Homo sapiens: one gene and its partner. The protein of the gene in region 1 purifies or fractionates together with the protein of each later gene. This does not show direct contact. Each region holds a gene or a part of one and is shown on either strand. Other genes may lie near its edges.

The links.
Region 2: the proteins of RIOX2 (region 1) and NAA16 fractionate together in Homo sapiens (co-fractionation; one large-scale study listed by BioGRID). This does not show direct contact.

Annotation. Positions count from the first base shown.
Region 1 is NC_000003.12:97,958,904-97,962,728, forward strand, and holds part of RIOX2 (ribosomal oxygenase 2), read right to left. Parts: intron 2,806-3,825; coding exon 2,686-2,805; intron 277-2,685; coding exon 148-276; intron 1-147. UniProt on the Homo sapiens protein: Oxygenase that can act as both a histone lysine demethylase and a ribosomal histidine hydroxylase. Is involved in the demethylation of trimethylated 'Lys-9' on histone H3 (H3K9me3), leading to an increase in ribosomal RNA expression.
Region 2 is NC_000013.11:41,366,623-41,370,447, reverse strand, and holds part of NAA16 (N-alpha-acetyltransferase 16, NatA auxiliary subunit), read right to left. Parts: intron 3,010-3,825; coding exon 2,796-3,009; intron 1,359-2,795; coding exon 1,165-1,358; intron 1-1,164. UniProt on the Homo sapiens protein: Auxillary subunit of the N-terminal acetyltransferase A (NatA) complex which displays alpha (N-terminal) acetyltransferase activity.

The DNA of each region.
Region 1 (3,825 bases):
ATGAGAAGCACCCTGCCCTGAAACCCAGGGATATATTCCCACGGGGACCATCACACGAACTCTAAACCTTGAGCCTGAACTTGTCTTAGCAATAGGGGAAACCACAATGGCTCTAACAATGAGGTGCCCACAACGGTTATCACATACCTTCAGCATAAACTCATGCACCGGCCTGCCGATCCTTTCCTCGGCCTCCACGCTGTACTCTCGTGCCAGGGGCACAGTGGGGTGGTAGAGGCGCCAGTGTTTCTCTCCCTCCAGCTGCAGGATGAAAACCTAGAGACCCACAAGGCCCAGGAGCATCAGAGAGCTTCCTGACAACTCACACACAAAGTGCTTCCGGACTATTAGCCCTCTAAGGGGCTAATAGACAAATATATAGGTGAACCTTGAACAACACAGGTTTTTTTTTTTTTTTTTTTTTTTTAGTTGTTATAGACAGTCTCATTCTCCTGGCCAGGCTGGAGTGCAGTGTCACAATTACAGCTCACTGCAGCCTCTCAAACTCCTGGGCTCCAATGATCCTCTTGCCCTAGCTTCCTGTGTAGTTGGGAAGCTGGCATGCACCACAGCTCCCAGCTAATTTATCTTCTTTGTAGAGATGGGGTGTCACTTTGTTGCCCAGAATGGTCTTGAACTCCTGGCTTTAAGCACTCCTCTCACCTGGGCCTCCAAAAGTGATTACAGGCGTGAGCCACCACGCCTGGCCTAACAGCATGGGGATGAACCGTGCAGGTCCGCTTATATGCTGATTTTTTTCAATAAATTATATTGGAAAATTTGGAGGAGATTTGCAACAATTTGAAAAACATGAAAAATATCAAAAGAATTAAGAATGTCATAAATGCATCAAATATAAAAACATATGTAGATACTAGTCTATCATCTACTACCATAAAATATTCACAAATCTATTACAGAAGGTTAAAATTTATCAAAACTTACCTATACAAATACTTCTAGACCACCATTTGCAGTCAAGAAATGTAAACAAACTTAAAGATGCAATATGGAATAGCTGAATAAAATTAACTTTAGTACATATTGTACTACTGTAATAATTTTGTGCTACCTCCTGTTGCTATTGCCACGAGCTCAAGTGTGATGCTAATTATCTCCACATGAGCAGTTCCTCTCTCCAGTGAATTGTGTATCACAGTAAAAAATGATCTCTCAACAGTTCTTGTGTATTTTTCATCATGTTTAGTGCAACAACTTAAGCCGTGAATAACACCATGGGACCCATATGATGTGCCACTACTGCTACTGCAAGTACTCCCGAGAAACAGAAAAAAGTCGTAACGTTACAAGAAAAAGTTGAATTGCTTGATGTGTATTGTAGATTAAGGCCTGCAGCTGTGGCTACCCACCATTTCAGATGGACGATTCAGCTTGTAAACAAATGATGTAAACTTACGGTACTGATAAACACAATATTAAAAATACTTTTCCCTTTCTTATAATTTTAATAACTTTTCTCCAGGTTCCTTTACTGAAGAATAAAGTATATAACACATATAACATACAAAATAAGTGTTAACCAATTTATGCTATCAGTAAGATATCTAGGCAATGGAAGGCTACTAGTAGTTAAGTTTTAGGGAAGTCAAAAGTTACAAGCAGATTTTTGACTGCATGAGGTGTTGGCACCACTAACCCCCACACTGCACAAGGGTCAAGTTTCCGATAAAAAATAAAAATGAAAGATGAGAAATGCATGTCATTCCACAGTTAAACAAAAGTTGCCACTACTGGGTTTTATTTTTAAAAACGGAATCGTGAATCCTGACACTGGATATTCATTCTTTTCACTTTCTTAGAGCCTCGCTGAGTTCTTTATATCCCACTATCTCATTCCTTTAAATCTTCTATCAGACAGCTAAAAGCCCATAATCTCTGATGGAAAAGCCAAGCTTCAGATATTACTGAATGTCTAAATCCTGAATGTTGAAAGGGCCTGGGGAGATAGGAAAACTTCGAGTTTTTTATTCTTTATTCAGTCAAAGATATTCTATTAAAAATATTAAAAATAACATTTTGTGAAAATGTATTGATGTCAAATTGCTATCAAAGGAGAAAAAGGGGACTTTTTACCAATAACTCTGTGTTTACACCTTATATTAGGACAAAAATAAAACTATGGAATACATAAGCCAAAGAGTTAAATTTTTTTGGAAGCCATATCAGAGTGAAATCAACACTTGTCAAGATGCCAATGCTTAAGTGAAACCATGACCCTCATTCAAGCTGCCCCAAGATTTTCACAAATGGAAAATATATACATATTTTTGGCAGCTACTGAAAAAGAACAAAATGAAAGCACATGAAGGATTATTTGTGACCTCATCTTATTAAAGACCATACTTTGTGAAATTAAAGGAAAAGCCAAGCACACCTTTCTGTAGATAAATTCAATAAATACTTGTTTCAGACGAATGTGTGGCTCTTTAAATTAGTAAGGTTGGAAACAAGCTGTTCCTTTGAGACAGAGCAGGAAACCAGTTTAGTGGGATTTACTTTGGCCCAACATTTTGATGAAATCAATATCTCAGAAACTGCACAGAAAGAGCGAATACAGACCTAAGAGCCTTAGAGAATAATGTGAACTCACCCTGACAACTCTACTAAACCAGGCTCTCAACAACTCATTCTTCCCAACATGGGGCAATTTTCTCCATCTCTTACCTCGACATCATCATAATGGGGCGGCAGGCCCTGAGATCCTGCGGGAGTTATGTACACATTCGAGCCAACCAAGGAGCCAAAGTAACATTCCAGCTTCTCCTGGATCCTCCAAAGCTCATCCTTTACAAAAAAGGAAAAAAGAAAGGGTCGGCGTGGGGGAGTGAAAAATGTATTAGAAATAAGAATAAGAGCATGTTCTTGTTCACTTAGGAAGTCTTTACTGCACAACTATTATACACCAGATACTGGGAATTATGCAATGATACAGCCAATACCCATGGTCTCAAAAATCTTCCATTCCAGTGCAGAAACACCATGTAACAGACGTGAACAGATAAAGGGATGACTGACAAGGTGGGCAATTGGGAGTCCGGAAGGCTTTTAAGCAGGGAAGGACACAATCCAATTTACATTTTTGAAAGCTCACCCTGGTTATTGTGTGAAGAATGCACTGTAGAAAAGAGTGGAAGTCAGAGAGACTAGTGAGGAAGCTTCTCAGGCAGCAGCTCAAGCGAGAAGTGACTGGGGTGGTAAGAAAGGCAAGGAGGGAGGTAGAAGAGTGGGATGCACTCTAGAAGCAGCACAGACAGGACTTGCCGACAGACTCAATGTAAAGGAGCGGAGTTAAAAAAAATACTCTTGGGTTTTTGACTTGGGCAATCAGTTCCCCTTTCCACGTAACGAGATGGGAAAAACTTACTAAAAAACAAGTTTTCAGGACAAAAAAAAGAGTTTTATATTAGGAATGTTAAGTTTGGAATGCTAAGACCCCCCCCCCCCCCCCCACATGGAGATGTCTTTAAGTCGGTCTGAAGTTCTGGCAGAAACTAAGGACTGAAGATTTACACTTGGGAATTGCCTACACAAAATGGATATTTAAAGCAATGGGAACAGAAATGATAACACGGGAAGAAGGTACAGACAGAGAAGAAATAACAGGCTGGGTAATGTTCCTTCTCTCCACTATCAACTCTTCAGAGCAGACATCAGACTTAGGGGCCTAGCGATGGGCCATATATTCCCAGGAGAGAGAAGGAAGTCTGATTTTACCAAGGCTGGTGAGAAGAGAGGAGGGGGGCAATTAGGCCATGTAGATATTAGCACTTCCTATGTGCCAGGCACTGTCTCCAAGTGCTTTAC
Region 2 (3,825 bases), on another chromosome or scaffold:
ACAGTTAGCCTATCCCTTCCTGCCTTAAATCCTGGTGTTCGCTTATTTTCCTTACTAATAGATGTCCTTTGTGGCTTTTATTTTTTCCTGTGATAGAGCACTTTTTTTCTACATTAAAAACCTGTTCAGGCAGATACCTCTTCTCCTCAATGATTTTCTCAATGGCATCTGGAACTTCTCTGCCAGCTCTTGGTGAGAAGTTAATTCTTCTGTTATCTGGACATTTTTTAACCCAAACATCTTTCTAAAATTATCAAACCATCCTTTGCTGGACCCTCAAAATTCAAACCTATGTTGTTCAAAGGCCAACTGTACTAGACTTACAGTGAATAAACCAGAAAACTAAATATTTCCTTAAATCTGATCCCAAAACAACTATTAACACTTGAGAAAATCCTGGAGGTGCTATCTCTTTGTAGCTACAACATTTCTAGTAAGACATATAAGGTAAAATGATTCCATATGTAATGGACAATTGTATTGCTGCTGTAACAAATTACCAAATATTTATTGACTTAAAACAACACACTTATTATGTTATAGTTCTTATAGGTTAAAAGCCCAACACAGTCTCACTGGGCTTACAATCAAGGTGTCAGCAGGACTGCATTTCCTTTGGAGATTCGAAGGGGGAATCCGTTCAATGCCTTTTTCAGCCTCTCTAGACTGCCCACACTCCTTAGCTTGGGGCACCCTCCTTCCATCTTCAAAGCCAGCAACAGCAGGTTGAGTCCTCCTCACATTGCATCATTCTGACCTCTGCTGCTGGCATCCTCAACTTTTAAGGCCCCTTTTGACGATATTAGGACCACATGGACAATCCAGGCTAATCTATCTTGAGGTCAATTCATTACAACCATAAATTCCATCTCCCACCTTAATTCTCCCTTGCCATGTAAGGTTACATATTCACAGGCTGGGGGGACCAGAACACAGACACCTTTGCAGGGCCATTACTCTGCCTACCACAATTGCAATTCTATGTATAACTTGCATTAGCCAAAATTTGTATACTGTCACTCAAAGATAATTGACGGCTATTATAAAAACCTTGAAATATTTCAAATGGCTTCTTACAGATTTAAATAAATCATGTTAACTGTCAGAACGGAACCAAATAGCATAAATTTTACCAAATAACAAAGATAGTAAAACCCATCTCACCCTTTCTAATTTTTCAGGTATAAGTTCTTCCTTAAGGCCACTGGCTTCTTCTTCTTCTTCATCTCTTTTTTTCTTTTGATTTTTCTGTTGACGTTCTCTTTCTGCATGCTTTCTTTCTTCTTCTAGTTTAGCCTTTTTCTGAGCTCTTCTCTGCTTGCTAAGCATTTTCTTCAATTCTTTGGCTGACAAGTTTTCTATAAATATCCAAATGAACAAAATTCTGAGCCAATGTTTGCATTTTCTTCATATTCTTCTGTAATACATACTGTTAGTATGGTTGTCCCTTGGTATCAGTGGGGGATTGGTTCATGACCCCCACCCCCACAAAGTCCACTGATACTCAAGCCTGTGATATAAAATGACACAGTATTTCCATACAACCTATGTACATCCTCCTGTATACTTTTAATTAGATCAGCTTTAAATCTTTCACCTTCCTTTTGCTTTAAGTTGCATATAATGACTTCACTTTTTCATAAATTATATTATGGTCTATAGGTATGCCTAAAATAATGTAAATGCTATGTAAATAGTTGTTACACTGCATTGTTCAGGAAATACTAATAATGACAAGAAAAAAAGTCTGGACATGTTCAGTACAGATGCAATTTAAAAAAACATATTTATGATTTGTTCCACCCATGTGGAACCCACAAAAATGGAGGGCCAGCTGTATACTTTTTTTTTCTGTTTTTTGTCTGGGCAAGGAGGGATGCAGAGGCAACCCATATAAAAGCTTTTAGAAAGTGTATCCCCAGTGACTAGAACAAAATTGGGCACACAAAGGACAGCCAGTAAATGTTGCATTAACTAAAATTGACCAATAGTAGCCCAGTTCTGCCTCCTACACAATATATGACTCCAGGCAAATCACTTTGTCCTTCTCAGTATCAAGTCTTTCAAGAATAAGTGAGATAATACATATAAACACCTGTGATCTCTAAATACTATATAAATATTAGAAATGAACAGCTACCTAGGAATATCTGAGATAGTTACCTAGGCTCATTTCATGCTAACTATTTCTCAAATATTCCTAGATATTAACATTCTAGTGAATAAAAAACTGTACAGATATTCTCACTGATATTCTTATTTTTAATAAAGTAGGAACTAGAAATTTTAAGATTATATATTTTTTCCTAAGGAGCTCAAAGCTATTTTCAGTTACAATTTTTTAAAAAAGAAAGAAAAAAACTAGTCCACAGACATTTCTATGTTTCCTAAACTCGTCTTTTTAAAATTTTTGTAGCGACAGGGGTCATGCTATGTTGCCCAGACTGGTCTTGAACTCCTGGCCTCAAATGATCTGCCTGCCTTGGCCTCCCAAAATGCTGTGATTACAGGCGTGAACCACCATACCCAGTTCTTAAATTGGTCTTTCTGAAGACAAAAATAAAAAAAATTCTAAGTTGTTCCATTAAAGTAATTTAGAACCATCAGCTACAGAATATCATCCCACTTTTTTTAACTCTCTCTGCAACATTTTTGTTTTTTGGCATATGAGTTATCTAATGTTTGTCTTCAACTCCAACAGACAATATATTAATATTTTTCTAGGTATTGTTTACGCTAATGGCATTCTGAAATTTAGTGTCCTTTTAAAATCTTTTAAGTTCCTATTCAGTTACCTGAGTTTATTTCTTGTTGTTTGCTTTCATTGGTTAAGGGATTATCATACAATTTCAAGTATATTTCAATCGCTGATCTAGCAGCCTTGAAATAAAAGGCATGTCTTCTGAGTATATCTTCTAATCTCAAAAGGTCAACATAGGCACGAAGGGTCATCTTTCTCATGCAGTATGTATGGAAGTCGAATTGGTCATCAGTTATCTCAAAAAAATGCTTAAAAACAAAAATCACAAAATTAACCTTTACATTTATGTCAATAATGTCTACCTTTAGAAAAAAAAAATTGTAAAAAGCCCAAAAAACAATTTAAACAGTCACAATTTTCACTTAGCTGCCCTCTCCAATGTTTTACACTATAAAGGATATGAATTATTTTTGGCATTCAACTTGAACTTTCTCTTCCTACAAACCATGCCCATTCCCTACAAATCATGTTTTGTGATGATACTCAACTTCTATATAAGTCAAAAGATCAGGTTATTTTTTAAACCTGAAAGTTAGTATATATTAATATTTTAGTTTTAATGAAATACTCTTCCTCCATATTCCCTAAAAACCAGCATGGCACAGTTAAACAGAGCTCTGAATGAAGACTAAATATGTGTAGGTTCACACTAAATATTTACAAATCTGACTGCTCTACTCAACTCTACCATTTTCAAGGGCAATCCTTACCCACCGCCTGCCACAGGGCCTAATACATAGCAGACATTCAGTAAGCACAGTATTTGCCCACTCAAGAGATAAGCTTCTTATTAGGGATGCGACCCTGAATAAGCCTTTTAATTTCCTAGACAATTATTTAATCTAAGTTAAGAATAAAGAAATCCATACAGCCAATTTCTTAAGGTTGTTAAAGGATCAAATAATGTATTTTAAAGTTCATTTTCAACAGTAAACTGTTATATAAATACAGAACTTTATTGTTTTCTCTTACTCTACCTACATTCCATTTTAGCAGAAGTTCTGAAACTGGAGTCTATGTATAAACAAGCATAAAAACTTCTTCCTAAGGAGAGAGCTCAAAGC